Linked DNA regions of Homo sapiens: regions 1 and 2 are each linked to region 3. The links come from fine-mapping of genetic effects on gene expression. A gene starts in region 3. Each other region holds a variant in brackets. All regions are shown on one strand. Distances are between the middles of the regions. Region 1 overlaps COL26A1 (collagen type XXVI alpha 1 chain). Region 2 has its middle 20 kb from the start of FIS1. Region 3 holds the start of CLDN15 (claudin 15).

Evidence for each region. PIP is the estimated chance that this variant, and not a neighbour inherited with it, causes the effect. A credible set is the group of variants that fine-mapping cannot tell apart.
Region 1: its variant is the best candidate, but not a certain one, in a credible set for the expression of CLDN15 in whole blood (INTERVAL, PIP 0.76).
Region 2: its variant is the best candidate, but not a certain one, in a credible set for the expression of CLDN15 in whole blood (INTERVAL, PIP 0.59).

Annotation. Positions count from the first base shown.
Region 1 is chr7:101,411,031-101,421,803 of GRCh38, reverse strand. It overlaps COL26A1 (collagen type XXVI alpha 1 chain), which reads right to left. Exons shown (of 13, transcript NM_001278563.3): 2 at 1,705-1,827. Among named protein-coding and RNA genes, the nearest start is that of COL26A1, 54 kb to the right of the region's middle. RefSeq lists enhancers at 301-852, 853-1,404, 9,974-10,517. The variant G/A (reference allele first, on the strand shown) is at 5,544.
Region 2 is chr7:101,259,256-101,270,028 of GRCh38, reverse strand. It overlaps the pseudogene RNU6-1104P. Among named protein-coding and RNA genes, the nearest start is that of FIS1, 20 kb to the right of the region's middle. RefSeq lists a silencer at 3,867-4,044. The variant G/A (reference allele first, on the strand shown) is at 4,913.
Region 3 is chr7:101,232,299-101,243,071 of GRCh38, reverse strand. CLDN15 (claudin 15) reads left to right here and starts at 5,270. Exons shown (of 5, transcript NM_014343.3): 1 at 5,270-5,707; 2 at 8,630-8,794; 3 at 10,158-10,239; 4 at 10,352-10,468; 5 at 10,557-10,773. The coding sequence starts at 5,491. The coding sequence ends at 10,662. FIS1 (fission, mitochondrial 1) reads left to right here. Exons shown (of 5, transcript NM_016068.3): 3 at 2,166-2,242; 4 at 2,825-2,930; 5 at 3,169-3,600. The coding sequence ends at 3,266. RefSeq lists enhancers at 2,609-3,152, 10,601-10,773.

The sequences.
Region 1 (10,773 bases), 180 kb before region 3:
AGGTTTAAAATGTCTCCCCACAACATACATGTAAAAGACAAAGGGAAAGATAATTATGCAACAGTGGAGAAACCTGGTAGATACCATCATAAGCAAGCGATCAAAGTTAACATCACCAGTCATGAGACGTAGCAATTTCTTTTTTTTTTTTTCCAGGCTGGAGTGCAGTGGCGCAATCTCGGTTTACTGCAATCTCCACCTCCTGGGTTCAAGTGATTCTCCTGCCTCAGCCTCCTCAGTAGCTGGGATTGCAGGCGCCCACCACCACGCCTGGCTAATTTTTGTATTTTTAGTAGAAACTGGGTTTCGCCATGTTGTCCAGGCTGCTCTCAAAGTCCTGACCTCAAGTGATCCACCCGCCTCATCCTCCCAAAGTGCTGGGATTACAAGCATGAGCCACCGCACCCAGCCAAGATTAATTTAAATCAGTAGACTTGGAGTAAAGCAGGTTGCCCTCTATAATGTGGGTGGGCCTTGTCCAATCAGTCGAAGGCTTTAAGAAAAAGACTGACTTCCCCGGAGGAAGGAGGCATTTGACCAGCAGCCAGCCCATCTCAAGCTGCAACATCAGCTCTCCTCCCTGGGTCTCAGCCAGCCAGCCCACCCTGCAGGTTTGGAATAATCGCCAGTCTCCATAATCATACAAGCCAATTCCTTACCATTTCAATCTCTCTCCCACTCTCCCTCTCCCCCATCCCTTCCTATTGGTTCTCTGGAGAACCCTGACCCAGGCAAAATGTCCCGTTAGGGAGGGCACAAAGGAGGGGAAGGGATTTGGAGTTTGAGGACAGCGGCTCCACGGTGCTTGGGGTAGAGGCCCCAGGCTGGGCAGGCTGTGGGGAGAGTGGTTTGGGGAAGCCAGTCCCTGGAGCTAAGCACGGCCTGGAGAGGAGGAAGAAGGGAAAAGAAGGAGAGTTGGAACTTTGGAGACCGTGAATGCTGGTGTCTGACAGCAAGATCTCTCTGCGGATGCTGAAGAGTCCCTGAAGCCTGTGGTCTGGTCAGGGCTGGTGAGAGGGAGGGGCTGGTGAGAGGGAGGGGCTGGTGAGAGGGAAGGGCTGACTATGGGCGGGGCTGGTGAGAGGGAGGGGCTGGTGAGGGGTGTGGCTGGTGAGGGGCGTGGCTGGTAGGGGCAGAGCTGGTGAGGGGCAAGGCTGGTGGGGGCAGGGCTGGTGAAGGGTGGGGCTCATGAGGGTCAGGGCTGGTGAAAGGCAGGCCTCGTGAGGGGCAGGTCCAGTAACAAGTAGGGCCAGTGAGAGGGACATGCCTGGTGAGTGGGGCAGTGCTGCCAGGGGCGAGGCCTGTGATGGATGGGGCCAAAGACAGGCTGGATTTCCAAGGTCATTGTAGCCCCTCGTTCCAGCCTGGAGCCATAAGGCTGGTTGGTTCCCTCTTCAACCCCACCTGGCCTTCCCCGACCTCGGATCCCATACCCCACTCATCTGTGGTGGTCTTCTGTCTGTCAAACACCCACTGGGTTGTGTGGTTCTGTTGCGGTAGGAGCATGTCTCTGACATCTTTGCACACACACATATATACCCTATATACACACACCCATGCCTTATATACAGAAGGTGCTCCATAAATGCATGCTCAGCCTTTGTCTGTGAGCACAGCCCAGCCTCTCCCAGAGCCATCCTGGGACTGGTTTTGTCCGAGGGAATGGGAGGGAAGGGCAGAGCAGCCTAGCCCAGCGGCCTTTACCTTACGAGGTTGGCGCAGGGCCCCGGCCACCGGCAGCTCTGGTACACGCGCTGGACCACCGTCTCCGAGCCATTCTGCACCTGGCAGGACACCGTCCGTGTCACTGTGTGATGGCACCAGTGCCTGTGGAGAGAGCAACAGTCACATGAGCCCTGCCTGTTCCCAGAGCTGCCAACTTCGGGTCAGGGGGCCGTGCTGGACAGGGAGGGGCCCCCGCAAACCTGGGGTGGAGGCTCGCTCTCTTGGATGGGGGGCCCACTGAGACCCTCTGTCTCGGTCTGAGGGGAAGAGAGAACACTTGCAACCCTTGGCCACCAAGCCCTGGCATCATTCCCGTCACTGACCACTCAGTGTGGAATTGGTGAGAAAGACTCAGCCCTGCCCGTGGAAATCTCACCCTGGTGGGGAGAGGAGATGACACAGTCCATAGGAACAGCAGGTAACACGTTCCACCACGTGGTGAACACACAAGCTACAGGAACGGAGCAGGGCATCTCGCCCAGCAGGCCCTGAGGCCACCAGCTGAGTAGTGCAAGATAAGTTAGCCAACCGACCAACCGACCAACTGACCAATGTGTGGGGGCCGTGAGAGGGGACGAAGCCAGCAGGGGAAGCAGCGGTGTAACAGGCACAGAGCGGAGAGAGACCACGGCAAGTCTAGAGACTTGCCTGCAATGGGAAGTGGCCAGGCCAGGCACAGTGGCTCACACTTGTAATCCTAGCACTTTAGGAGGCTGAGGCAGGAGGATCTCTTGAGCCCAGGAGTTCAAGATCAGCCTGAGCCACATAGTGAGACCCTGCCTCTACAAAATAAAAATTAAAAAATTAGCCCAGGCGTGGTGGCACACACATGTAGTCCCAGCTACTCAGGAGGCTGGGGCAGGGGATGGCTTGAGCCCAGGATCATAGTGGCTATGATCATGCTACTTCACTACAGCCTGGGCAACAGAGTGAAACCCTGAAGAGAGGAGGAGAGGAAGGGAGAAGAGGGGAGGGGAGGGGAGGGGAGGGGAGGGGAGGGGAGGAGGAATGAGAGAGAAAGAGAGAGAGAAGGAGAGAGGGAGGGAGGGAGGAAGGGAAAGAGCCAGAGAGAGAGAGAGAGAGAAAGAAAGAAAGAGCCAGAAGGCTGAAGGAAGGGGAGGAGCCAGGAGAAAGGAAGAGACATGTGACCTGCCGGGCTAGGGAATAAATGCCTTCAGAGTACAAGAAGCAAGGGGCAGCAAGCTTGGGCAGTGGAGAGGAGGAAAGAGGAAGGGACGTACACAAACAATACGGGATCAGGTTAAGGTGCTCCCACCTCCTCCTCCCATCCCCATAGCCTAGAAATTGAAAATTAAAAAATAAGTCCCTGGCCGGGTGGTGGCTCAGCACTTTTGGGGTCCGAGGAGGATGGATCACTTGAGCCCAGGAGTTTGAGACCAGCCTGGGCAACATAGCGAGACCCCATCTCTACAAAAATATTTAAAAATTACCTGTGGTGGCACACGCCTATAGTCCTAGCCACTCAAGAGGCTGAGGCAGGAGTATCACTTGAGCCCAGGAGGTTGAGGCTACAGTAAGCTGTGATCATGCCACTGCACTCTAGCCTGGGTGACAGAGCGAGACCCTGTCTAAAAATAATAATAAAATAAAATAAGAAAAAAAGTCCTCAAGGGCATTGGAAAGAGAGAAGCAATGGGCCAGACATTTGGAGGGGTCCCTAAGAGACAGAAAGTAGATGGGCCCACATTGAAGGCAAAAATCACAGCCAGAAACACACAAAAGAGGACCGGGGCTGAAGCTAGGAGCCACATGGGGGCACAGATGCAGATGAGGAGGTAGAGAGGGACCCAAAGGTGACCATCAGAGAGATTGGTTAGGGGACCACCATAGAAAGAGCTGGACAGGTAGGACCCGGGTCCTTGTCCCTGCTGGTTTCAGGAATCAGGCATTGGAGGCTGAGTGCGGTGGCTCACACTCATAATCCCAGCATTTTGGGAGGCCAAGGTGGGAGAATCGCTTGAGCTTAGGAATTCTAGACTAGCCTGGGCAACATAGCAAGATCCTGTTTGTCTCTACAAAAAGTATATATATACGACTGGGCATGGTGACTCATGCCTGTAATCCCAGCACTTTGGGAGGTCAAAGTGGGCGGATCACCTGAGGTCAGGAGTTCGAGACCAGCCTGGCCAACATGGAGAAACCCTGTCTCTACTAAAAATGCAAAAACAAATAGCCAGGCTTGGTGGCACACACCTGTAGACCCAGCTACTTGGGAGGCTGAGACGGGAGAATCACTTGAACCCAGGAGGCAGAAGTTGCAGTGAGCCGAGATCGCACCACTGCACTCTAGCCTGGATGACAGAGTAAGACTCCATCTCAAGATATAAATATATTATAGATATAGATATCTATAGATATATCTCTATATCTATGTCTAGATATAGAGATATATCTCTATATCTATGTCTAGATATAGAGATATATCTCTATATCTATGTCTAGATATATAGATATACCTGTATCTATAGATATGTAGAGATACATAGATATGATAGTGCCACTGCACTTTGGCCTGGGTGACAGAGCGAGACCCTGTCTCTATTTAAAAAAAAAAAAAAAAGATATTAGGCATTGGATTCACCTGTCCTAAGGTAGGTATGGTCACAGGAGTGGGTGCTGGCTGACCTCAAAAACTGGTGACCTTTCAGTCTTGGGGGATGGAAAAAAGAAAAAAAAAAAAAAGCTTGTGACCTCCAGGAGAAACAGGGTCACTCTCAAAGTCAGACAGATAAATGAATTCTTACACACTCGTTTCCCATTCTTCATCCATACCTCCAGCCCACCAACAGACAAATTCTCAGGAAACAGAAACAAGCTAATGGAAAACCCCAGATACCAAGACTTTCAAATTATTTGAGGAAAAAAGGCCAGTATCATGGAAGAAAGGCACCAACTCAACAGGCAATAAATCACATCCCCTTAAAAAATAGTAAAGCAAATAGATGGAGATAATTTTTTAAAGCATAATTAATGTCCTCAAAGAAATAAGACAATGTATCACTCACTAAAAAATTCTGGCCAGGCATGGTGGCTCACACCCGTAATCCCAGCACTTTGGGAGGCTGAGGCGGGTGGATAGCTTGACCCCAGGAGTTTAGACCAGCCTGGGCAACATGGTGAAACACTGTATCTACAAAAATATACAAAAATTAGCCAGGCATGGTCCCTGACATGCCTGTGGTCCCAGCTACTCAGGAGGCTGAGGCAGGAGGATCGCTGGAGCACAGGAGTTTGAGACTGCAGTGAGCCATGATCGCACCGCTGCACTCCACACTGGGTGACAGAGCAAGACCCTGTGACATACACACACAAAAAAAATGAAATTAAAAAAATGCATTATCTTAGAAGTGAAATGTATGACTATGAAAAACAGAATGGAAACAGCTAAAGGGCAAACCGATGAGCTGCAAATCTAAGCTGTGACCTTTCCCAGTAGCCACTGCAAAAAGAAAAGGAGATGGAAAACAGGCAGAAACAGGCAACAAGGGACCTAGAGGAAGACCAAGGACCAACATCTATATAGTAGTAGCTCTGGAAGGCATGATCAAAAAAGAACAAAGAGAAGCATGTACTTGAAGAAATAACAAGAAAATTTACAAGAGCTGAAGAAAGACATGAGTTCAGGCTGGGTGTGGTAGCTCATGCCTGTAATCCCAGTACTTTGGGAGGCCGAGGTGGGTGGATCACTTGAGGTCAGGAGTGTAGTGGCATGATCATGGCTCACCACAGCCTCAACCTCCTGGGCTCATGCAATCCTCCCATCTCAGCCTCCCAGATAGCTGGGACCACAGGTGTGC[G/A]CCAACATGCTGGCTAACTTTTGCATTTTTGTAGAAACAGGGTCTAGCTATGTTGCCCAGGCTGGTCTCAAACTCCTGGGCTCAGGTGATCGTCCCACCTCGGCTTCCCAAAGGGCTGGGATTCCAGGCGTGTGCCACCATGCCCTGCTAAACTCAGGTTTAATAGACATGAAGAACAAGAAAAAAAAATTCCATATAGAGATTTAAATGTATAAGCAAATATTAGGTATAATCTTACATCAAAAAATTTCAAAAATCCTGACTACTGGACAATTTTCTAGGAAAATACATATTACCAGTACTAGCACACTCAAAAATACGTGAAAGGGGTTGGGTGCAGTGGCTCACGCCTATAATCCCAGCACTTTGGAAGGCTGAGGTGGGAGGATCACTTGAGCCCAGAAGTTCCAGACTAACCTGGGCAACACGGCAAGACCCCATCTCTATACAATAAAAAGTAAAAATTAGCCAGGCATGGTGGCACATGCCTGTGGTCCCAGCTACTCGGGAGGCTGAGGCAGGAGGATCGCTTGAGATCAGGGATCAAGGCTGGAGAGAGCTATGATCGCACCACTGCACTCCAGTCTGGATGACAGAGCCAGACCCTGTCTCAAAACAAAACAAAACAAAACAAAAACATGGAAGAAAAGGGAAAGTAGTGAAAAGTTGAGCCCTCTTCTCACAGGCACCAGGAAACCTAGTTTAAAACCAGGTTCTGCCACAAACCTGCTGTATGACTTAGGCAGAGTGATGTCCCTTCTCTGAGCCTCAGTTATATTTAAAATCTAACTTTTAAGGTTATGATGAGGCTGGGCACAGTGGCTCACGCCTGTAAACACAGCACTTTGAGAAACCAAGGCGGGTAGATCATCTGAAGTCAGGAGTTCGAGACCAGTCTGGCCAACATGGTGAAACCCAGTCTCTACTAAAAATACAAAAAATTAGCCGGGCATGGTGGAGGGCGCCTGTAATCCCAGCTACTGGGGAGGCTGTGGCAGAAGAGTCGCTTGAACCTGAGAGGCGGAGGTTGCAGTGAGCCAAGATCGCACCACGGCACTCCAGCCTGGGCGACAGAGAGAGAGACTCCGTCTCAAAAAAAAAAAGGGGGGGGGTTATGATCAGGACTAAATGAACACATCCCAGTCAGTAGTGTGTAAATCATGCAGCATTACCAAAATCAAGGCATCATTCTTAATCAACTGGTTACTTAAACCCTACAAAGGAATCTAACAGCTTAAAGACAGTCCTAGTTTGCAGATGGAAAAGAAAGTCTAAGAGGTTAAACTTCATTGCCCATAGCTACAGCTCAAACCACAGGCTGAGCTGCAAAGGGAGTCTAGTCTTCCTGACCCGAGGACTGGCGGGATCCCACCTACCCAGTACAAACTGTGAATTCCACCTCTGCCAATTAAAAAGGTCCTGAAACTGTGGGAGACTTCAGCAGCCTAGGCCCTTCCTTTGATTCTACTGGAAAGCCTCAGCTCCAGCTCAAGCACTCAGTGTGTGTTTCCAAAAAGAAAGGTGAGCCGGGCGCAGTGGCTCATGCCTGTAATCCCAGCACTTTGGGAGGCCGAGATGGGCGGATCACATGAGGTCAGGAGTTTGAGATCAGCCTGGCCAACATGGCAAAACCTCGTCTCTAATAAAAATAAAAAATTAGCCGGGTGTGGTGGCAGGTGCCTGTGATCCCAGCTGCTCGGGAGGCTGAGGCGGGAGAATTGCTTGAGCCCGGGAGGTAGAGGTTGCAGTGAGCCGAGTTCGTGCCACTACACTCCAGCCAGCGTGACAGAGCAAGACTCCGACACACACACACACACACACACACACAAACACAGAGTGAGAGCGAGAGCGAGCGAGAGAGAGAGAGAGAGAGAGAGAGGTGACTTTCCTCAGGATGGTTTAATGTGGGATCCTGAGATCCGCCCGAGGGTTCTAGAACAGACAGGCCGTCGTCCAGCATCTCTGAACCACACTGAGTCAGGGCTTTCCATAGAGAAATGAGCTGTGAATTGGAAAACATTTCCAAATACCTCAAATCACCGTCCCCATAACATTTGGTCTTTAAATGGGCTGGAAATGGCTTCCAAAAATCAAAACTTGGCCAAAAACAACGAAGAAGGGAGGCAGAGACAAGGAAAGGGCTCCAGGCCTTTCCAGATGGAGCTCTAAAGCCTGTGCATCCCCAGGTAGCCGCGGTTGTGGGGACCCCCATTGCCTTGCCCCTAGGATCCCTGCGTCCTGAGTGTTTTGTCTGCCTCTGTCTGCTGTCTGGTGGTGTCGTCCTGCCACCGCCCACCTGCGCACCTCAGCTCCTGACTATGGCGGGTGCACAGCAGTGGGTGAACAGTGCTCTGGGGGCCATAAAATAACTGCACCCAGAAAGGTGCTTAGCAGGAGACACATGTCCCTTTCACGACCCTCCTGGAAGGACTGACCCAGGAGGACAGAACTGGGACATGGCAGGCCTGGTCCTCGAACTGCCAAGAAATGAACACACTCCCGGCAGCCTCCATCAGGATGGCAAGGGACTGGCATTATCTCTGGGCATCATCTCAGCAATGTTCCTTCCTCATTTCCCTTCCCTTCTCCCCAGCTGAGCACTCAGGGAGGGTCCAAGACAGTAAACTCACTCCTAGCAAAGGTCTTGAGGACGGATCTGCTCCCAAACAAGTCTCCTTTTCTTTTTCTTTTCTTTCTTCTTTTCTTTTTCTTTCCTTTCCTTTCATTTCCTTTCTTTTCTTGAGATGGAGTTTTACTCTTGTGGCCCAGGCTGGAGTGCGATGGCATGATCTCAGCTCATTACAGCCTCCGCCTCCTGGGTTCAAACAATTTTCCTATATCAGCCTCCCAAGTAGCTGGGATTACAGTCACCCGCCACCATACCCGGCTAATATTTTGTATTTTTAGTAGAGACTGGTTTCGCCATGTTGGCCAGACTGGTCTGGAACTCCTGACCTCAAGTGATCTACCTGCCTTAGCCTCCCAAAGTGCTGGGATTATAGGCACGAGCCACCGCGCCCGGCCACAAGTCTCTTTTTCTTGCAAGAGGCGGCCCACTTCACCTAGGGGGAGGAGCAATCAAACCGTCCCGAGCCACCACCAGCTCAAGGCTTGCTTGCACAGTACTTTCACCCCACCAGGCGTTTGGCTCTGTGACTTGGCTGAGCCATCAAATCCTTAATTGGCGGTTAATAGAGAAAACAAGTGCTAAGTGATTTCAGGAAATCATGTCATGATGCGATAGAGAGATCTTCAGGACACTTCCCAGGTTCATGCCCATCTCGGAATGTGACCAGTCAACCCCTCTCCGAGGCTGCCTGCTGCCCTAAGAGATGCTGCTGAAGCAGCCTCTTCCCCCCATTGCCCTGGTGACACGGGACAGGGGAGCCCCAAAATTGAGGCTTAGCCAGGGAGGGTTCTTAGTTTCCCCCAGGAAAGAATTCAAGGACAAGCCAGTGGTGTTGCAACTTTTATTGAAGTGGCAGTGCACAGCAGCAGCAGAGGTCCTGCTCCCTGCAGAGCAGGGCTACCCCAGAGGCAGTGTGCCCAGAGTAGCAGCTCAGAGGCAGGGCTGCACTCATATCTATACCCACTTTTTTTTTTTTTTTTTTTTTTTGAGACGGAGTCTCGCTCTGTGGCCCAGGCTGAAGGGCAGCGATGCAATCTTGGCTCATTACAACCTCCGCCTCCCAGGTTCAAGGGGTTCTCCTGTCTCAGCCTCCCTAGTAGCTGGGATTACAGGTGCACACCACCACGCCTGGCTAATTTTTATACTTTTAGTAGAGAGGGGGTTTCACCATATTAATCAGGCTGGTGTCAAACTCCTGACCTCAAATGATCTGCCCGCCTGGGCCTCCCAAAGTGCTGGGATTACAGGCATGAGCCACTGTGCCGGCCCCACTTTTAATTGTATGCAAATTGGGGGTGGTTTATGCGTAAACTTCCAGGATGAGGGTGGTAGCTTTAGGGTTGTTGGGTCGTTGTCATGGAAAGGGGTGGTAACTCCTGGTGTTGTCATGGCAATGGGAAACTGACATGGCGCACTGGTGGGCATGTCTTATGGGGAGGCGCTTCTGCCCCGATCTGTTTTGTTTAGCTAGTCCTCAATTTGGTCTGGTGTCCAAGCTCTGCCCCTGGAGTCAAGTTCCACCTCCTACCTCACCACCTCTACCCCAGCCTCAGGCTTGGCCTTCCAAGCCCCAGTGCTCCTAACTGAGCTTTGCTTTGAGGGTTGATCTCATGCGTCCCCTCCCTCCCCAGGACACTTGAGTCCCGAGCCTGAGTCAGAGACCAGGGCTTTTGTTTTTTCTTTTGTTTTGTTTTGGAATGGAGTCTTGTTCTGTTGTCCAGGTTGGAGTGCAGTGGCACAATCATAGCTCACTGCAGCCTTGACCTCCTGGGCTCAAGCAATTCTGCAAGGCCCCAAGGCCTTGCCAGGGCCCCCCTCCTTTCCACCAGAACCACACAGTCTGTCCCCACTTCCTCATCCTGAGCTCTGTCCTGGCCCCCTGTTGAGTCACCACTGTGCCTGCCTGCTTGCCTAGACAGTGGTCACACACCGTCATGTCCCACAGGACACTGCAGTACACACAATGCCAACCTGTCCAATCCAACTGAATCCATCACTATTCAACCCCGACTTGCTCCTCCAGCTTGGAGGCCAGCACCTCTAAGTTCCCCGTTTCCTTACCAGGAGCAAATCACCCAGACTCCACCTTCTCCTTTCCTCCCTCCCTTCCCTGCCTCCTTACGGCCAATTAGGCACCGTGCCTGCAAGTCCGTGTCCTGACGCCCCTCCCATGGTGGTCCTGAACCTCGGCCCCTCCTGCCCTCCCAGCCTGCAGTCTCCTCTATCTACCACCAGAGGGCGCGCTCTCAAGCACAGACGTGGCCGTGTCCCTCCCGCGAGCCTTCCCTGACCCTCCAGCCAGGAAAGGTTCTCCTGTCCCACAGGGCCCCCTTGTATGCCTCTGTCTTAGCCTTCGTCCTATGGGAAGACTCCCAGCTCCTGAAGACGGCGGACACAGGGCAGGCCTGGTAAAGTTCTGTTGCTCCGACCCCAACCCCTGCATCCCAGAAGGAGCCCTCCCATCCACAGTCACTCAGCTCAACCACAGCAGCTGCTCTGGGCTGTGGTCTGTGCCAGGACCTGAGCCCCAGCAGGATCTGAGCCATCTCAAGGTTGGGGGTGTCCAGCTTCAGGCCCAGCTCCCCAGCACCACACCTGCCC
Region 2 (10,773 bases), 27 kb before region 3:
CAGCACATATACTAAAATTGGAACGATACAGAGATTAGCATGGCCCCAGCGCAAGGATGACACACAGATTCGCGATGCATTCCATATTCTTGCTATAGTCCGCTGCCCGTTACCTCGCTTTGCTTCCCTTCCCCGTATCCTGCCATAACGTCACAGGGCCCGTGACGTCATAGCCTTCCCATGTCCGTCTCCCGTTGCACCATTGAGGTTGGCGATTGGAGAACAATCTCGCCATCCCCACTCAGGCGTGGCGCCTTGCCACCTGCCGCTGTAGCCCCCATAAAACAATAAATAAAAATAAAAATACAAAACTTAGCCAGGCATGGCGGTACACGCCTTTAGTCCCAGCTACTCGGGAGGCTGGAGGTAGGAGGATCACTTGAGTCCGGGAGGCAGACGCTGCAATGAGCTGAGATCATATCACTCCACACCAGCCTGGGCAACAGAGTGAGACTCTGTCTTTAAAAAAGAGGGCCAGGCGAGGTGGTGCATGCCTGTACTCCCAGCTACTTGGGAGGCTGAGGTAGGAGAATCGCTTGAACCTGGGAGGCGGAGATTGCAGTAAGCCGAGATCCGTGCCATGGCACTCTAGCCTGGGCAACAAGAGTGAAACTACATCTCAAAACCTCAAAACAAAACAAAAAAACAAGGCCAGGTGCGATGGCTCATGCCTGTAATCGCAGCACTTTGGGAGGCCGAGGTGGGTGGATCATCTGAGGTCAGGAGTTCAAGACCAGCCTGGGCAATATGGTGAAACGCTGTCTCTACTAAAAATACTAAAATTAGCCAGGTGTGGTGGCGGGCGCCTGTAAACCCAGGTACTCGGGAGGCCAAGGCACTAGAATCGCTTCAGGAAGGTGGAGGTTGCAGTGAGCTAAAATTGCACCATTGTATTCCAGCCTGGGTGACAGAGCGAGACTCCATCTCAAAAAAAAAAAAAAAAAACCCAGAAAAACTGATAAAAGGATAGTAAGGATACCAAGCAACTCTACCCATATAAATCCAACAAGCTGGAAGAAATGGACCAATTTCTTGAAAACTACAAACTACCAAAAAACACTCAATATGAAACATAATTTTTAAAGTCTTGTAACAATTTTAAAAATGGAATTCATGGTTTTTTATTTTATTTTATTTCATTTCGAGACTGCGTCTCACTTTGTCACCGACACTGGAGTGCAGTGGCATAAACACGGCTCCCTGCAGCCTTGAATTCCTGGGCTCAGGTGATCCTCCCACCTCAGCCTCCTGAGTAGCTGGGACTACAGCCGCCCACCACCACACTCAGCTAATTTTTTTATTTTTTGTGGACATGGGGTTTTGCCAAGTTGCCCAGGCTGGCCTCCAACTCCTGGGGTCAAGCAATCCACTTGCCTTGCCTCCCAAAGTGTTAAGATTACAGGTGTGAGCCACCATGCCCAGCTGAATTCCCCTTTTTTTTTGAGATGGTGACTCACTCCATCACCCAGGCTGGAGTGCAGTGGCACGATCTCGGCTCACTGCAACCTCTGCCATCCAGGTTCAAGCGATTCTCCCACCTCACCCTCCTGAGTAGCTGGGATTACAGGAGCCCACCACCTGTAATCCTAATTTTTTGTATTTTTAGTAGAGACAGGGTTTCACCATGTTGACCAGGCTGGTCTCAAACTCCTGACCTCAGGTGACCCACCCACCTCAGCCTCCCAAAGTGTTAGGATTATAGGCCTGAGCCACTGCACCTGGCCTTGAATTCATAGTTTTAATAAAACAATTTCTTGTCTTCGTGGTCACATACAGCTAGTTTGGTGATTCCCTGGAAGGACCCACGTGACTGCAGATAAAGTTATGCTCTAGGTGAAGATATATTACAGCGGAGGATACAATACAAGAACAGCAGGAAAAAGGGTATTAATAGATGAAGGCTGGAGAGGTCAAATGCACACTTTTTTATCCTCTCTCTGCAGGAATGCACAGACATATCTTTTCCAGGAGCAAACTGCAAGGACTTGTGTGAGATGTCCTTGCCCAGGAAATTCCACTTGAGTTCTGGTGTCAAAATTTGTGTGGTCAGGCCAGTCGCAGTGGCTCACCCCTGTAATCCCAGCACTTTGGGAGGCCGAGGTGGGAGGATTGCTTGAGTCCGGGAGTTTGAGACCAGCCTGGGCAACATGGTGAGACCTCGTCTTTATTAAAAAGAAAAAAAAAATTAGGCTGGGCGTGGTAGCTCACGCCTGTAATCCCAGCACTTTGGGAGGCCAAGGCAGGCGGATCACCTGAGGTCGGGAGTTCCAGACCAGCCTGGCCAATATGGTGAAAACCTGTCTCTACTAAAAATACAAAAATATTAGCAGGGGCCGGGCGCGGTGGCTCACACCTGTAATCCCAGCACTTTGGGAGGCCGAGGCAGGCGGATCACGAGGTCAGGAGATCGAGACCATCCTGGCTAACACGGTGAAACCCCGTCTCTACTAAAAATACAAAAAAAATTAGCCGGGCATGGTGGCAGGCGCCTATAGTCCCAGCTACTCGGGAGGCTGAGGCAGGAGAATGGCGTGAACCCGGGAAGCAGAGCTTGCAGTGAGCTGTGATCGCGCCACTGCACTCCAGCCTGGGCGACAGAGCGAGACTCCGTCTCAAAAAAAAAAAAAATTAGCCAGGCATAGTGGTGGGCTCCTGTAATCCCAGCTACTCGCGAGGCTGAGACAGAAGAATCGCATGAACCCGCGAGGCAGAGGTTGCAGTGAGCCAAGGCCACGCCACTGTGCTCCGGCCTAGGTGACAAGAGTGAGACTCCATCTGGAAAAAAAAAAAAATTAAAACATTTGTGGGATGGGCGTGATGGCTCGTGCCTGTAATCCTAGTACTTTGGGAGGCTGAGGAGGGCAGATCACCTGAGGTCAGGAGGTTGAGAGCAGCCTGGCCAACATGGTGAAACCCCGTTTCTACTAAAAATATAAAAAAATTAGCCAGGTGTGGTGGCACACGCCTGCATTCTCAGCTATTCAGGAGACTGAGGCGGAAGGATAGCTTGTACCCAGGGGGCGGAGGTTGCAGTGAGCTGAGATCGCGACATTGCATTCCAGCCTGGGCAACATTCCTGCCATGTGACCAAACACAGCCCTTAACCACAGGTTGGGCATCATGAATCTTTTTTTCTTTTTTTTTAGAAATGGGGTCTCACTATGTCACCCAGGCTGGAGTGCAGTGGCATGATCATAGCTTACTGTAGCTGCTGCTTCTTCTTTTTTTTTTTTTTTTTTTTTTTTTTTGAGACGGAGTCTCGCTCTGTCACCAAGGCTGGAGTGCAGTGGTGTGATCTTGGCTCACTGCAACCTCTGTCTCCCAGGTTCAAGTGATCCTCCTGCCCCAGCCTCCCAAGTAGCTGAGATTACAGGCGTTCACCACCATGTTCAGCTAATTTTTTGTATTTTCAGTAGAGACAGGTTTTTCCCATGCTGGCCAGCCTGGTTTTGAACTCCTAACCTCAAGCAATCCCGCCCGCCTTGGCCTCCCAAAATTCTGGGATTACGGGCATGAGCCACTGCACCTGGCCAAGTATCATGAATCTTTATGTTTACTTTAAATCTGCTGACAGCCTGGTTCATCTGGGCTCACTGTTTTGGCCATGGAGAATAACATCTGAACCAGTAACTATGTGAATATTCCAGAAGTTTGGTTTTCAGAGTTTGACAAACAGCCATCACCTTGGCTACAGAGATAAGTGAGAAAGGGGGGAAACAGACCTGTTGTATTAACTCTTTCCTCCCACTCTTGAAAAAGATATCTCCAGACCCAGATAGTTTCACTGGAGAAGTCTACTCATAGTTAAAGAAATATCGACACTAATTACACGTAATCTCCAGAAAACAGAAGAAGGACCACTTCCTGACTGACGAGGCCAATACAGTTGACCCTTATAGCTGCAGGTTCCCCATGCATGGATTCAGCCAACCACAGATCGAAAATTTTCCGAGATATGGACGCCAGGCGCGGTGGCTCATGCCTGTAATCCCGAGAATCGTTTGAACCCAGGAGGCGGAGGTTGCAGTGAGCCAAGATTGCGCCACTGTATCACTGCACTCCAGCCTGGATGACAACAGTGAAACTCCATCTCAAAAACAAAACAAAAAAAAACCAGAATATCACCCTAGGTGGGCATGGTGGCTCACAACTCTAATCTCAACATTGTGGGAGGCCGAGGAGAAAGGATCGCTTGAGCCCAGGAGGTTGAGACCAGCCTGGGCAACATAGCAAGACACTGTCTCTACAAAAAAATTAAAAAATTAGCTGGGTGTGGTGGTGCACCTGTAGTCCCAGCTACTTGGGAGGCTGAGATGGGAGGATCACATGAGCCCAGGAGTTCCAGGCTGCAGTGAGCTATGATTGCAACACCGTACTCCAGCCTGGGGGAACACAGCGAGATCCCGTCTCAAAAACAAACAAAAAAACAAAAACAGAAAAAAACTCATTTCTGCCATTACCTCTTCAAAACTTTTCCTTAACTTGCAGTCTGGAGTTGAAGACCCTTCCGCTAAGCTCTGGTGAGAGGCTAACTGAATAAGAACACTTTGACCATCATATTATAATAATTGCTTTATTTATTTATTTGTTTTTTTGAGACAGGGTCTTGCTCTGTCCCCCAGGCTGGAGTGCAGCAGCATGATCACAGTCCACTGCAACCTCAACTTCCCAGGTTCAAGAAATGCTCCCACCTCAGCCTCCTCAGTAGCTGGGACTACGAGCATGCACCACCACATCGGGCTAATTTTATGTATTTTTATAAAGAGGGGCATCGGCCGGGCATGGTGGCTTACCCCTGTAATCCCAGCATTATGGGAGGCCAAGGCGGGTAGATCACCTGAGGTCAGGAGTTCCAGACCAGCCTGGCCAACATGATGAAACGCCATTTCTACTAAAAATATAAAAATTAGCC[G/A]GGCATGGTGCCACGTGCCTATAATCCCAGCTACTCGGATACTCGGAAGGCTGAGGCCGGAGAATTGCTTGAACCTGGGAGGCGGAGGTTGCAGTGAGCCGAGATCGCGCCATTGCACTCTAGCCTGGGCGACAAGAGTGAAATTCAGTCTCAAAAAATAAAGAAATAAAGAAATAATAAATAATAAAATAAAATTAAAATAAAATAAAGAGGGGTGTCTCGTCATGTTGCCCAGGCTGGTCTCATATTCCTGGGCTCGAGCAATCCACCCGCCTCAGCCTCCCAAAGCACTAGGATTGCAGGTGTGAGAGCCACTGTGCCCGACCAGAGCTGGGCTACATATCTTCATTAAACTTTTCATCAGGGTCAACTGGACCCTGGCTCCTGCCCCACCAGTCCTATGAGGCTGCAGAGTGTGTGGCCCCAATAAAGATTCTCCCCCAATCCCTCTACCCCCAGATCTTCCTGCAAGGTTGGCAGAGCTGGATGCTCTGAGAGCTAAGGGCACATGGGACAACCAGTGCCTGGCCAGAGAAGGGGAGGAAAACACGTGATGCCTCACTGAACACAGAACAGCCACCCCCGCATGCTTCTGCAGGGCGAGGAAGGTCAGCTCTTGCCTCCTTCTCCAACCCTCCTCCCAAACACCAAGCAGGTTTCTAAGAATAGTAAAAGGCCAGCAGATCCATCTTCAGGGCCTCTGTGATCAGAAATGTGCAAATACCTTTTTCTTTTCTTTTCTTCTCTTTTCTTTTCTTTTCCTTTCTTTTCTTTCTTTTCCCTCCCTCCCTCCCTCCCTCCCTTCCTTCCTCTCTTCCTTCCTTCCTTCCTCCTTTCTTTCTTTTTTCTTTTTTTTTTTTTGAGACCGAGTCTTGCTCTGTCACCCAGGCTGGAGTGCAGTGGTGTGATCTCTGCTCACTGCAACCTCCGCCTCCTGGGTTCAAGTGATTCTCCTGCCTCAGCCTCTCAAGTAACTGGGATTACAGGGGCCTGCCACATTGCCCGGCTAATGTTTGTATTTTTAGTAGAGACGGGGTTTTTCCTTGTTGGCCAGGTTGGTATCCAACTTCTGACCTCAAGTGATCCGCCCGCTTTGGTCCCCCAAAGTGCTGGGATTACAGGTGTGAGCCACTGTGCCTGGACCAAAGATCTTTTTCTTTGTGCCTTTTGGGAGTTAATAAAGCACTCATATCTGAAAATCTGTTTCTGCATCCCACACTCAGAATGCATGGCGGAAACAGTCCAGGAATGCACAAGGCTTGCCTGGGAATCACATTCAGCAAGTTCTGGGATAGAAAAACTGAATCTAAAGGAAAATTGTATTGTGTACTTACCAGTACTCTGTAGAGTGTTTCAGTACCATGAAGCCAGGCGTGGTGGCTTATGCCTGTAATCCCAGGACTTCGGGAAGTAGAGGCAGGAGGATTGTTTGAGGCCAGGAGTTCGAGACCAGCCTGGGAAACATAAAGAGACCCCATCTCTACAAAAAATATAAAAATTATCCAGGCATGGTGGTGCATGCCTGTGGTCCCAGCTACTCTGGAGGCTGAGACGGGAGGATCCCTCGTGCCCAGGAGGTCAAGGCTACAGTGAGCTATGATTGTACCACCACACTTCAAACTGGTCAACATAACAAGATCCTGTCTCAAAAATAATAAAAAGACATGAGCTAGCTGACTTTTTTTTTTTTTGAGACTGAATTTTGCTCTTGTTTCCCAGGCTGGAGTGCAATGGTGTGATCTCGGCTCATCGCAACCTCCGCCTGCCGGGCTCAAGCGATTCTCCTGCCTCAGCCTCCCAAGTAGCTGGAATTACAGGCATGTGCCACCATGCCCGGCTAATTTTGTATTTTTAGTAGAGATGGGGTTTCTCCATGTTGGTCAGGCTGGTCTCAAACTCCCAACCTCAGGTGATCCACCCGCCTCGGCCAAAGTGCTGGGATTACAGGCGTGAGCCACTGTGCCCTGCTGAGCTAGCCCGCTTTTGCATGTTGCAGTAAATTTGCTAGGGCTTTCTGAACAAAGTTCCACAGATTGGATGGTTTAAACAACAGAAATCTATTTCCTCACAGTTCTGGAGGCTGGGAGGCTGAGGCCAAGGTGACGCCAGGGTTGATTCTCTCTGAGGCCTCTCTCCTTAGCCTGCAGATGTCCACCTTCTCCCTGTGTTCATGTCCTCTTTCCTCTGTGTATGTCTGTGTCCTAATCTATCACCCCACAACCTTTTTTTTTTTTTTTTGGAGAGACAGGGTCTTGCTATGTTGCCCAGGCTGATCCCAATTCCTGACCTCAAGTGATTCCCCCCACCTCAGCCTCCCAAAGTACTGGGATTACAGGCGTGAGCCACCATGCGCGGCCCCATCTCCCCTTCTTCTTCTTTTTTTTTTTTCTTTGAGACAGAGTCTCCCTCTGTCGCCCAGGCTGGAGTGCAGTGGCGCAATCTCGGCTCACTGCAACCTCCACCTACCGGGCTCAAGCAATTCTTCTGCCTCAGCCTCCCAGGTAGCTGGGACTACAGGTGCGTGCCATCATGCCCAGCTAATTTTTGTATTTTTAGTAGAGACGGGGTTTCACCATGTTGTCCAGGCTGGTCTGGAACTCCTGACCTCAAGTGATCTGCCTGCCTCGGCCTCCCAAAGTGCTGGGATTACAAGCATCAGCCACTGCACCCGGCCCCATCTCCCCTTCTTATAAGGACACCAGTCAGATTGGGTGGGGGCCCACCCCAATGACCTCATTCTAACTTAACTTCTTTAAAGACCCCATCTCCAAATATAGTCACATTCTAAGGTCCTGGAGGTTAGGACTTCAACATATAAATTTGGGAGATGCAATTCAGTTCATGACACAGATACATCTCCGGCAATTCAACACCTAACAAAAGCGTGATTTCTTCACGTTTTCCACTGCTTTCATCTTCTCAGTCGTTAAGTCAATAAAAGCCTCCGAGTTTTAAAAATACCTTAGCAATTTTGACATTTAGGAAGGTTCATAGCTCTCAGATTTGCCCAGCTTGACGTGATCTTATTTTTCAGAGGAAGCAGCCTCTATTCAGCTCCTAGTCACAGCCGGCCTTCTGGAACATTCTTTCGAGCATTTGAAGGCTTCCAAGAGATGGGAGGGGGTGTCTTTTATACTATAACGCTTTGAGTAATCTAGCTCATGCAGGCATTCCTCTTCATGAAGGACTTAGCTACCTGACTTTTGACCAGAAACAGATGATTTTACCTCAAAATTACTTTTTAAAAAATAAGTTGACCTACCACATATCAAAAAGATAATAGCGAATAGAAAAATTACTGCAGACAATTTATAGAGTCAAGAGACCTAGAAAGGCTTCAATTCCCACTACCACACCTTGAGAAAATTACCCAACCTCTTTGATCATGTTTGCCAATTAAAAAATGGGCAACTCGTCCGGGCACCATGGCTCACGCCTGTAATCCCAGCACTATGGGAGGCTGAGGCAGGAGGATCACCTGAGGTCAGGTTCGAGACCAGCCTGACCAACATGGAGAAACCCCATCTCGACAAAAAACACAAAATTTGCTGGGCGTGGTGGCGCATGCCTATAATCCTAGTTACTCGGGAGGCTGAGGCAGGAGAATTGCTTGAACCCAGGAGACGGAGGTTGTGGTGAGCCAAGATTGCATCATTGCACTCCAGCCTGGGCAACAGAGTGAGACTCCGTCTCAAAAAAAAAAGTGAGCAACTGAATTGAAGATCTTCAATTACTGGCCAGGTGTGGTGGCTCACACCTGTAATCCCAGCACTTTGGGAGGCCAAAGTGGGAGGATCTCTTGAGGTCAGGAGTTTGAGACCACCCTGGGCAACATAGTGAGACCCTGTCTCTACTAAAAATACAAAAATCAGCTGGGCGTGTTGGCACATGCCTGTAATCCCAGCTACTTGGGAGGCTGAGGTGGGAGAATCACTTGAACCCAGGAGGCAGAGGTTGCAGTGAGCCAAGATCACACCACTGCACTCCAGCCTGGTAGACAGAATAAGACTCTGCCTCAAAAACAAACCAAAATGAAACAACAAAACAATGCAAAGTTGGCCGAATGTGGTGGCTTATGCCTGTAATCCCAGCACTTTGGGAGGCCAAGGTGGGCAGATCGCTTGAGGCCAGGAGTTTGACACCAGCCTGGGCAACATAGTGAGACCTCCTCTCTACAAAAAAAAATCAAGGAAATTAGCTGGGCATGGTGGCACATGCCTGTAGTTCCACCTACTTGGGAGGCTGAGGTGGGAGGATAACTTGAGCCCAGGAGGTGGAGGCTGCAGTGAGCCATGCTCACACCACTGCACTCCGGCCTGGGCGACCTCAAAAACAAAACAATGTGGAATTGTGGAATTGGCCAGGTGTGGTGGCTCATGCCTGTGATCCCAGCACTTTGTGAGGCTGAGGCACAAGGATTGCTTGAGACCAGCCTAGGGAACAGAGTGAGATTCCATCTCTATTTTTAAAATTTATTTGTTTATTTATTTTTCTGCGAAAGGGTCTCACTCTGTCACCTAGGCTGGAGTGCAGTGACACAATCTCAGCTCACTGCAACCTCCACTTGCCAGGCTCAAGCAATCCTCCCACCTTAGCCTCCCAAGTAGCTGGGACTACAGGCACATGCCACCATGCCTGGCTAATTTTTTAAATTTTTATAGAGATGTGGGTTTCGCCATGTTACCCAGGCTGGTCTTGAACTACTGAGTTCAAGCAACTCAAGTGATCCTCCCGACTAGGCCTCCCAAAGTGCTGGGATTACAGACATGAGCCACCGTGACCAGCCTAAAATTTTTAAATAATAATAAAAAAGTCTTCAATCATTTCCTTCTATAAAATTCTAAGATTTTAATATAAAACAAACAAGCATCTTTCATCACATGGGTATCCTCAATTTACCCTACAAATGAAGATTATTCCATTAAATTTTGAACTTAAGCCTGGTTGCCCCACCATTACCCATCTGAAGCAATCCTTAACAACGCAGAATTGGCCAAATGTGGTGGCTCACGCCTGTAATCCCAGTACTTTGGGAGGCAGAGGCAGATGGATCACCGTGGTCAGGAGTTCAAGACCTGCCTGGCCAACATAGTGAAACCCCGTCTCTACTACAAATACAAAAATTAGTTGGGGGTGGTGGCAGGAACCTGTAGTCCCAGCTACTTGGGAGGCTGAGGCAGGAGAATTGCTTGAATCCAGGAGGTGGAGGCTGCAGTGAGATCATGCCACTGCACTCCAGCCTGGGTGATAGAAGGAAACTCCACCTCAAAAAAAAAAAGAAAAAAAAAGAAAAAGAAAAAAAAGACTCTGACTTGTCCTTGAAGTTCCTTCAATATTTGATGGAGTTCTGGACTTCTAAAGGTCTGTTTTTTCCTATATTTATTACTTCTTAGATTTAATAAATACGTGTTAAACCCCCCATGATATAAGAGAAAACCTCATATAAGTCAAAATACAGGACCTAAATGGCATTATGGAAGTACTAAGAGAGTTTTGAAAAGGAGAGGATTACAAACTTCAGAATAATTTATAACGCTGTACATTAAAAATCTTTTTTTAAAACTTTTATTTTAGGCTCAGGGGTACATGTGCAGTTTTGTTATATAGCCAAACTCGCGTCACGGGGCTTTGCTGTACAGATGGTTTCATCACCCAGGTACTAAGCCTAGTACCCAATAGTTACTTATTTTTTCTTCTCCTCTCCTTCTTTTTTTTTTTTTTTTGAGACAGAGTCTCACTCTGTCGCCCAGTTTGGAGCGCAGCAGTGAGATTATAGCTCACTGCAGTCTCAAACACCTGGACTCAAGCGATCCTCTTGCCTCTGTCGCCCAAGTAGCTGGGAATATGAGCAAGTACCACCA
Region 3 (10,773 bases):
ATATAAAATCGCATGGTATTTACATGTAACCTGTGCACCTTCTCCCATATACTTTAAATCATCTGTAGATTACTTATAATACCAAATACAATGTAAATGCTGTGTAAATAGTATACTGTATTGTTTAGGGAATAATGGCAAGAAAAAAAGGTCTGTTCATGTTCAATACAGATGCAACTATCTTTTTTTTTTTTCTGAGTATTTTTGATCCATGGTTCGTTGAATCTATGAATACAGAATGCTGACTGTGTTAGCAAAGGATGCCTATTGAAAATCTATAAAAATGGCCAGGCACAGTGGCTCACACCTGTAATCCCAGCACCTTGGGAGGCCAGGGCAGGCGGATCACGAGGTCAGGGGTTCGAGACCAGCCTAATCAACATGGTGAAACCCTGTCTCTACTAAAAATACAAAAATTAGCTGGGCCTGGTGGCGCACACCTTTAATCCCAGCTACGCAGTAGGCTGAGGCAGGAGAATCACTTGAACTCGGGAGACAGAGGTTGCAGTGAGCCAAGATCACGCCATTGCACTCCAGCCTGGGCAACACAGTGAGACTCCGTCTCAAAAAAAAAAAAAAAAAAACTATAAAAATAAGACTCTTTCTTAAAAGATACAAATAATTTTACCCTATGTTTGTCTACTTCGGCAATTCAGATTTTCAGGTTTATTCTACAGCAGGGTGTAGGTGTAGAAGAAACAGCCTCTCTAAGTGTTGCCAGTCTAGTTGAGAAAACAGTACAGACAGGAAGATTTATAAACACCTGCAGAATTATTTAGCAACAAATTCTAGTGCATACAGTACAGTTATCCTCTGGGAAGTCTCTGAATTAAGAAAGTCAGGTGGGGCCAGGCACTGTGGCTCATGCCTGTAATCTCAGCACTTTGGGAGGCCAAGGCCAGAGGATGGCTTGAAGTCAGGAATTTGAGACCACCTGGCCTGTCTGTGTAACAAAGATGTTTAAATTAGCCAGGCATGGTGGTGTGTGCTTATAGTCCCAGCTACTTGGGAGGCTGAGGCAGGAGGATCACTGACCCCAGGAGTTTGAGGCTGCAGTGAGCCATGGACATGCTACTGTGCTCCAGACTGGAGTGACAGAGCGAGACCCTGTCTCCGTTTTTTGTTTTTTTTTTCCCGAGACTGAGTGTGCAATGGTGCAATCTTGGCTCACCGCAACCTCTGCCTACCGCATTCAAGCAATTCTGCTGCCCCAGCCTCCCGAACAGCTGGGATTACAGGCATGTGCCAACACGCCCGGCTAATTTTGTATTTTTAGTAGAGACGGGGTTTCTCCATGTTGGTCAGGCTGGTCTCAAACTCCCGACCTCAGGTGATCCGCCCGGCTCAGCTTCCCAAAGTGCTGGGATTATAGTCATGAGCTACGGCTCACGGCCCACCCTGTCTCTTTAAAAAAAAAAAAAAAAAAAAAAAAAAGGAAGGAAGACAAAGTCAGGTGGGGTCTTCGGGGAAGGCTGATTGAAGGTGAGTTTTGAGCTGATTTTTTTAAAGGGGGAGGGAGTCCTAACTTTTTTTTTTTTAAACAATAATTGTACAGCAGGCAGTTTAGTTAAAACCACAACGGCAGCACTTTGGGAGGCCAGGGCAGGCAGATCACTTGAGGTCAGGAGTTTGAGACCAGCCTGGCCAACATGGTGAAACTCCATCTCTACTGAAAATACAAAAATTAGCCAGGCGTGGTGGCGGGCACCTGTAATTCCAGCTGCTCGGGAAACCGAGGCAGGAGAATCGCTTGAACCCAGGAGGCGAAGGTTGCAGTGAGCCGAGATCACGCCATTGCACCGCAGCCTGGGCGACGAGTGAAACTCCGTCTGAAAAAAAATACCACAGCAGATGCCAAAACTGAGTCACGCTGCCTTTGGCTTCTCCAGGGCCCCGATTTCCTCATTTCAGTTGGATGGACCAGTTGACTGTAATACTGATAAAAGGCATGTTCTGTCACTGGGGTGTTGGCACAGCTGGGGTTCACCCTGTCCCAGAGCTCTGGCTAGGGTGCTGGGAGTGACTGGAGCTGAAAGGGAGGCTTAGGACTGTGACCCTCCCAGGATCACAGAGGCATTCAGAGAGTGGAAGGGGCCTCTGGGACACAGTATTAGGAAAGTATTAGGAAAGAAGCATTTCTCACCCTCTTCTCTGCCCCTCCCCAGAGCTGCTGCCCAAAGGGAGCAAGGAGGAACAGCGGGATTACGTCTTCTACCTGGCCGTGGGGAACTACCGGCTCAAGGTGAGGTGGGGACCCCGTTCCCTTCACCCTCCTCTGGGGCTGCAGGACCTTCTTACTGTGTCCTCCAGGGTGGAGCCCTGGACAGCGGGAAGGCTGAAGGGGTGCAGAGGTGCAGAGCGGTGTCAGATGAGGACTCCGAGGGAAGATCAGAGTGGCGAGGGGGTGGGGAGGAAGGTGACGTCAAGAGACTGGGTGCAGGCCCAAGCCTTGCGCTGTTATCTCCCGCAGAGTTGGGGTTGTTTGTGGACTCTACTCCGTGGGGTGGGGCTGGAGGGAGGGAGTGGGTGGAGGTCGAGGGAGGAGCCCCCAGGGCTGAAGAAGGGAAGGCCCTTCACGTGGGCAGGGGGAGTGGTGGATACTGAGGTGTAGCCGGCCCAGTGGCTCACGCCTGTAATCCCGGCTACTCAGGAGGCTGAGGCGGGAGGACTGCTTGAGCCTGGGAGTTTGAGGTTGCAGTGGGCTGTGATTGCGACGCTGCCGTCCAGCGTGGGCAACAGAGCAAGACCCCGTCTCTTATTAAAAAACAAACAAACAAAAAAACACTGCGGTGTGTATGACGCGTGCGCGTTTCCCCGAGCGCAGGAATACGAGAAGGCCTTAAAGTACGTCCGCGGGTTGCTGCAGACAGAGCCCCAGAACAACCAGGCCAAGGAACTGGAGCGGCTCATTGACAAGGCCATGAAGAAAGGTGACAGCCTCGGCCCCTTTGTTCAGCCCCGCTCTTCCCCACGCCTGGGCACTTTGGTCTCTCTGTAAATGAACCCCTCCAGGCAGCCCCTCAGCCCCACCCCTTCCAGTTCTTAGAGCCCCTTGCCCTGCGACTCCAGGTAGGGGTGTGCCTCTGTTGAGGGGCAGGGCTGGCGGAAGGGGACGGTCAGGGTTTCCGCAGGGGCCGGGCTCCTGACACTGTCCCTTTCCTTCCCCAGATGGACTCGTGGGCATGGCCATCGTGGGAGGCATGGCCCTGGGTGTGGCGGGACTGGCCGGACTCATCGGACTTGCTGTGTCCAAGTCCAAATCCTGAAGGAGACGCGGGAGCCCACGGAGAACGCTCCAGGAGGGCCTGTCCATCCTCGCTGTCCTTTCCCTGTTCTCCCCCTGCCCCCCGTCTCTATCCTCTGTGGCCTTCAGCTAATTTCTGCTCCCCTGAGATTCGTCCTTCAGCCCCATCATGTGCTTTGGGATGAGTGTAAATAAAACGGGGCTGTGGCTTGGGAACCCCCGTGTCTGCGTTGAGGGGAGGGGTGGGTTCTGAACGCTGGGCACAGGGGGCGGAGACGTCACTCCTGGTCCTCTCCTGCCCCTGCCCTCCAGGTTGGCACGGGGTTCTTTGTCCACCCCGCAGCCCAGAGCCCACACCCTTCCTTCCTCCCTTTCCTGAAGCCATGTCCTTGAGAGTGCCGGGCAGCTCGGAGACATGGGGCTTTTCCATGGTCCCAGAGTCCTGGGAGAAGGCAGTGACCTGAGCATGGGCGGGCAGAACTTCGGGGCCAGGCCGGGCTTCAGGCCTGCATTCTCCTCTGACCCACTCAGCTACTTCTGTGGAGTTTTCCACAGCAGGCCCCCTTGGCTTCCTCCTCCCCACCCTCCCCTCCCTTTGTCTTCCTGTGGCCTCCCCTTCCTCCTACCTCCTCCTCTGGGGGAGGGGGAGCCCAGTAGGGGAAGGAATCCTGCATCTGGCATGGAGTAGGCGGGGGTCCCGGGAGAGGTCAGAGCCCAGGGAGCCCCAGCTCTCGCCTGTGGGCTGGAAGGTCAGGACTCAGCCCCACCTAGCCAGCTTCGCCCCCTCGTGCCAGGCTCGGCATGGGCCTGTTTTGCTTCACCGCATACCTCTCGTTCCACAGCCCAGGCCAGCACAGGAGTAGGGAGGAGACACCTGAGGGGAGGCCGGAGAAGCCCAGCAGGGCCGTGGGGCCAGGGAGGTGCGCAGCCAGCGCTGATGGCCCCCAGGGACAGAGCCCTAGGGAACCGGAGCAGGAGATGAGAGTGTCTGCTCTGGGACAGGTGCTCTGCACTGGCTCGGGATGGGGACCAGAGGCTGCTAATCCATCATCATTAACGAATAGAGTGGGTGACAGTCCCTGATAACTGGGAACAGGTTGCAGAGCTTAGCCACAGGATCACGCTCCAGGCTGTTGGCCAGCAGGACCAGGCTCGATGCTGAGTCAAAGATCAACTTAGGAGGAAATTTGAGTTTTGGGTGAGAGCGACTCCCTGGTGGCCTCAGCCCTGTGACACTCACATCCAGGACAGTTCCCGGTGCCAAGCGCTGGTTATGTGTGGGGGGCTTGACTCCCTGGTCCCAACGAGGTCTCAGTGTGTTGCCCAGGCTGGTCTTGAACTCCTGAGTTCAAGCAATCGTCTCAGCCCAGCCTCCCAAAGTGGTAGGATTACAGGCGAGAGCCACTGCGCCCGGCCCCTGGTCCCAGTTCTCACCACAGCCCCTGCAGTAAGCAGTCGGGTATGTCACTGACAGAGCAGAAGCTCAGGGGACTAAAACTCCCCGCCTGAGTTCCCTGGTGAATGGATGGTGGGGCCGAGTTCCATTCCAGGCTGGATGGAGCCCAGAGCTGTGGGTCTCCTACCCTCCCATCCCCTCATTCCAGCTTGATCTTCCTTAAGAGACTCATACGCCCCAACCCCTTGGTCTGAGTATCTTAGATTGTTCTCGTGGTTCCTCCGTCCTTCACCACTGAAGGCTGCTGTTCATTCTCTCTCCGTCTCTGTCCCTTATTGCTCTCACGTCTGTCTCTGTCATCTTTTCACTCCTTGTCCCTCTTACTCCGTTCTTTGGCCCCCAATGAAAGCTGAGTCAGAGACAGACGCTTCCCCTCAGTTCCCAGTGCCTCCCTTGGGGGCCCCTCCTTGGCTGTATCCGTCAGTGGCTCCAGGGTAAGTCTGCCCCCCCCACCCTCGTGGGGCGGGGAGCCCGGGGCAGCCCAGAGGCTGGGGGGAGGGGGTGGACTTTTGGCCCGTTTCGGTTATTCCCTCCATCTCGTCAACAGCTGCCGCGCGCAGGCTTAGCTCATTCCTCTGACCTGCCAGGAAGCAGAGAGACCCACAGAGCAGGAGGGAGGCAGAAAGTGGAGACGGACCTGAGCCCGAGGAAGAGGCAGGCAGAGGCTGAGGCTGATTCCACCCCAGCCTGCCTGGACAACCCTCCTTAGCCGCAGCCCCTTCCAGTTCCCTAGGGGTTCTGCCCCTCCCCCTCTCTGGGGCACCAGCCCCCCAGGGTCCTGCATCCCACCATGTCGATGGCTGTGGAAACCTTTGGCTTCTTCATGGCAACTGTGGGGCTGCTGATGCTGGGGGTGACTCTGCCAAACAGCTACTGGCGAGTGTCCACTGTGCACGGGAACGTCATCACCACCAACACCATCTTCGAGAACCTCTGGTTTAGCTGTGCCACCGACTCCCTGGGCGTCTACAACTGCTGGGAGTTCCCGTCCATGCTGGCCCTCTCTGGTATGGGGTGGGGAGCGCTCCAGGGAGAGAGGGCGGCGGGGAAGCTGCAGAGACCCCAGGGGAGGGCGGGTACTTCCGTGAGGATGCAGGGAGCCCTGAATTAAGCTCTGCGGGTCTGAGTTCCCGCAGCCAGGAGTGCTGGGGGCGGCCCATGCCTAGAACTGGAGTGAAGACCTTGCCACACGTGGCCCCCTGCGCTAGTGTGGCGCTTTTAGCTGTTACAGGTGCAGGCACCAGAATCAGACCCCCTTTCCCAGCCCTGTGCTGTGGGCAAATGATGAAACCAGCTTCATCTCCCACCTGTAGGGTTAGGGTGAGAGTCCCAGTTCACAGGTGACTGAGAAAGTGCAGAATGTTAGCGTGATGTTAACACACATAGGCACTCAGTACGGTTGAGCATGTTTTGGGGGTGGGATTGCTGGGGTGGGCAGGGGGAGGAGGCCCCATCTTGGATTCTTAGAGGTTGATCAACTTCCAGGCTCCACAGACTCCCCAGCCTCACTGTCGGGGGGCACTGGTCTCCTTGTCCGGCTGATGTCTATAAAGGGCCCCTGTGAAGGGAGGCGTCTTGCAAGTTGCAGGTTGAGCGTCCGCTGTAAGGAGGCGGTGTGTGTGCAGGTGTGTGGGGCTTCCAGGACAGTGTCTTTCTGGGGTCTTAGAGGGCTGGAGCCAACAGCTCTTTGGGCCCAGGGCAGTTCTTTCTGTGGCTGCGGCACCTTCCCGCTCCCTGCTCCCCGCTAAGATGAGGCCGCCCCATTGTTTCTCCGGGGCAGTCTCCCTTCCGTCTGCCCTATGCCAGAGACTGAGCGCTGGCGACCGTGAACTGTGTGTGGTGCCGCTGCACGCCCTCCTGGGTCCTTCAGGGCCAGTCCACTCACCAGGCACCGTGTGGCAGGGAAGGAGCCGAGGGCGACACTGGCTGTGAAGCGGGGCTTGAGAGCTCACCCCCGGGGATGTTGGAGCTGCTCTGAGCAGTTAGGGGGCCTGGGTGGGTCTCCTGTGCCCCCACTACTCCCAGCCCCTCCTGAGGCAGCGGCAGAGGCTTCCTGTTTTCATCCATCTCTCTAGGACTGACTGTATGCAGGGCCGGCGGGCCCCCCCCCCAAAAAAAACCCTATAAAAGCTGAGTACAACTTGGGCCAGAACCCCAGAGTTCTGAGTGTCCAGAAGGGACACTGGAGGCAGCCCCTACACCCACTTCCCAGACACATCATGCTGTGAGGAGGGGGCTCTGCTGTGAGCCTGCACACCTGAGAGGGGCACCCCTGGCAACTGCATGAAAGATGGTGCCAGAGTCCCCAGGGCACAGGGGTAGAGGGTGACCAGGTTCCGGGCCTTGGGCTAGGTGCTTCTGCCTACATTTTTCCACAGTGGGGAAGTAGGGGGAAACTTTTACAGAAGCAAGGTGCAGCACCCCACCCTGAATCACACAGGCAGGAGAGGGGAGCCGGCATTCAGACTCCACGGCTGGGGTGGTCCTGGGAGAGGGACCTGACTGCGTCTCCCAACCGTGCACCCCAGCCCCTGGCCACGCAGCCCATGTGCCCCTGGGCTCTTCCATAATCTCTCCATTGACTGCTAGAGCCACCTGGGGACTCAGACTCGTGTCAGCCCCAGAGGGAGTGGCTGGGAGGAAGAAAGTGCTCCCAGAGAACTTTGTCCCTCCTGCCTACCCCCCGACTCTGCACCCTGCATCTCCTGGCAGGGACCCAGCCTTTCCCCTTCAGCACCAACAGTTATGCCCCACCCGGGAAAGGGGTGCAAGGTCCTTGGAATGCTTGGCAACTATCAAAGACAGAGAAGGGAGGAGAAGGGGGAAGCAAGAGGGAGCCCGCAGCCTCCAGCTCTGAGAAAAGGGAAACTGAGGCACTGAAAGACTGAGCTAGACTGACCTGGATCGGTCCTGGGCCCAGGATTCCACCTAGGTCAGAAACTCCACCGGGTGTGGTGGTCCACACCTGTAACCTGAGCTACTCAGGAGGCTGAGGCAGGAGGATCGCCTGCATCCAGGAGTTCAATCAAGGCTACAGTGATGAGCTGTAGTGGCGCCACTGTCCTCTGGCCTGGGCGACAAAGCAAGACCCTGTCTCTAAAACTGCCCTAGGCCCTCTGCTGTACAGCACCGCTGCCCCCTACCTGTTACTCCAGGAAGAAACCAAGGTCAAAATGTCCAGCACTGGGCTAGGACAGTGAAGGACTTGGAGTGGAATCAGACGTGGGGAAGGCGACAGCGATGCTTAGCTGTGGTTTCTGTATACCCAGCAACGTGAGAGCAACCTGATAGGGCAGTTGTTCTCAGCCGGGCGACTTTGCACAATGATTGTCACAGCTTGTGGGGAGGGGGTTGCTACTGGCACCCCGTGGGTAGAGGTCAGGGAGGCTTCTGAACATCCCACAGTACACAGGACGGCCCCCAGAATAGAGTTGCCCAGCTCAGGTGTCAAGAGTGCCCAGGAGAAAGCCTGTAATCCAGGCACAAGCAAAGCGTGCCAGGTGCATGGGAGGAGTGGGGAGCAGGGTGGGAGGGGCCCAGATGCCTAAGGAGGGAAGGGTGACTGCAACTGGGTAGGCTGGAGGAGCCCAGGGGAAGGAGAGGATGTGGGGACTGTTAGGTACAAGAGAGCAAGAAGGTGAGGGGGGCCTGGCACAGTGGCTCATGCCTGTAATCCCAGCACTTCAGGAGGCCGAGGCAAGCAGATCATTTGGGGTCAGGAGTTCGAGACCAGCCTGGACAACATGGTGAAACCCTGTCTCTACTAAAAACAGAAAAATTAGCCGGGCGTGGTGGTGCGTGTCTGTAATCCCAGCTACTGGGGAGGCTGAGGCAGGAGAATCACTTGAACCTGGGATGGTGAGGGGCTGTTGGGCTGGCTCCGTCGCAGAGGGGAGATGGGAAAGGCTGACAACTGTGCCCACCCCCAGGGTATATTCAGGCCTGCCGGGCACTCATGATCACCGCCATCCTCCTGGGCTTCCTCGGCCTCTTGCTAGGCATAGCGGGCCTGCGCTGCACCAACATTGGGGGCCTGGAGCTCTCCAGGAAAGCCAAGCTGGCGGCCACCGCAGGGGCCCTCCACATTCTGGCCGGTAACTGGGGGAAGGTGATGGGGCGGGGGTCCCCCTCAACCGCAGACTTCAGGCTGCTTTGTCCTCATCTAATCTCCTCTCCAATTCCCACTCCTCATGCTCACCTCCCCTACCCTGCTGCATGGACACCTGCTCACCCCTGCCTCATCTGTACTCCCCAGATCTCCTGGCTGCAAATCAGCCCATCGGCAGTGTTTCTTGAGCTCCCAGTAGGGGCTGGCCACGGCCAGGTGTGGGAGGGACTTCGAAGATAAGAGTGAGCGGCTGCCTCCGGGAGCTTACATCCTAGCTGGGGAGCAGAGTTAGGGTGCACGCTATGGCGCACACACACAGTGCACGTCCACAGTGCCATACCACGGGGCATGGTGGCTCATGCCTGTAATCCCAGCACTTTGGTAGGCTGAGGTGGGTGGATTACTTGAGGTCAGGAGTTCAAAACCAGCCTGGCCAACATGGTGAAACCCTGTCTCTACTAAAAATACCAAAAAAAAAAAAAAAAAAAAAAAAAAAAAATTAGCCAGGCGTGGTGGCAGGCACCTGTAGTCCCACTGACTTGGAGGCTGAGGCAGGAGAATCACCTGAACCTGGGAGGCAGAAGTTGTAGTAAGCCAAGATTGTGCCACTGCATTCCAGCCTGGGTGAAAGAGTGAGACTGTCAAAAAAAAAATGGCCAAGGCAGGAGAACTGCCTTGAGCCCAGGAGTTCCAGACTAGCCTGGGCAGCATAGTGAGAACCCGTCTCAGCAAAAAACAAAAACAATGCCATCTGGCCATTGCTTTTCAATTTGCAGAACATTTCTGTACCCATTGCCTCACAATAAGCCTTTGAGGTAGGGTGGGTATTGCTTGTTTTCCAGAGGTAAAACAGGCCCAGAAAGGTCAGGTGGCTTGCAAGAGGACAAGCCCCCAGTGAGTAGGGTGGTGCTAGCCCGGGGGTCTGCCTGGCTTCAGGAAAGGACGACCCTGGACTCCCATGGCCCAGCTGGGTTTTCAAGGTTTCAAGGGTGGGCGGGATTTGGATGGGGCTCCATCTGGGTGAGGAGATGATGGGATGAAGGCCCTAGAGGTGGGCATGAACTAGGTAGATCTGGGACCAAAGAGAGAAGAGGCAGGAGGAGGTTGAGGTAGTGTGAGATGAGCTGGGTGGGCTGGACTTGGGGCCTAAGGGCTACCCTGAGAAGTTGACCCCAGGAAGGAGGAAGGCTTATAAACTGGGGTGGGGAGAAAGGAATTGAGTGAAATTGCTGCTCTGGGACTTGGTGCCCCCGTCCTACTCTGGGCAGCCCCTGCCTGCCTCTCCCCTAAGCCCCCTCCCCCACTATCCCTCCCCCTGGACTGGACTGGGGTCGTCCTCCGGTCCCCAGGTATCTGCGGGATGGTGGCCATCTCCTGGTACGCCTTCAACATCACCCGGGACTTCTTCGACCCCTTGTACCCCGGAACCAAGTGAGTGAGGAAACCCCCCACCCCCCGCCCTCGGGGCAGCGGGTGGGACTCAGCCCTGCCCCCCGGCTGGCGTCTCACTTGTCCCCCGCCCCCGCGCCGCCCTTGTGCGCAGGTACGAGCTGGGCCCCGCCCTCTACCTGGGGTGGAGCGCCTCACTGATCTCCATCCTGGGTGGCCTCTGCCTCTGCTCCGCCTGCTGCTGCGGCTCTGACGAGGACCCAGCCGCCAGGTGAGCAGGGTGAGGCGCAGGCTGGGGCCGGGCGGGATTGGAGAGAGGAGGGCCGCGCCCCCGCTCTGACCCCGGGCCCTCCCCGCAGCGCCCGGCGGCCCTACCAGGCTCCAGTGTCCGTGATGCCCGTCGCCACCTCGGACCAAGAAGGCGACAGCAGCTTTGGCAAATACGGCAGAAACGCCTACGTGTAGCAGCTCTGGCCCGTGGGCCCCGCTGTCTTCCCACTGCCCCAAGGAGAGGGGACCTGGCCGGGGCCCATTCCCCTATAGTAACCTCAGGGGCCGGCCACGCCCCGCTCCCGT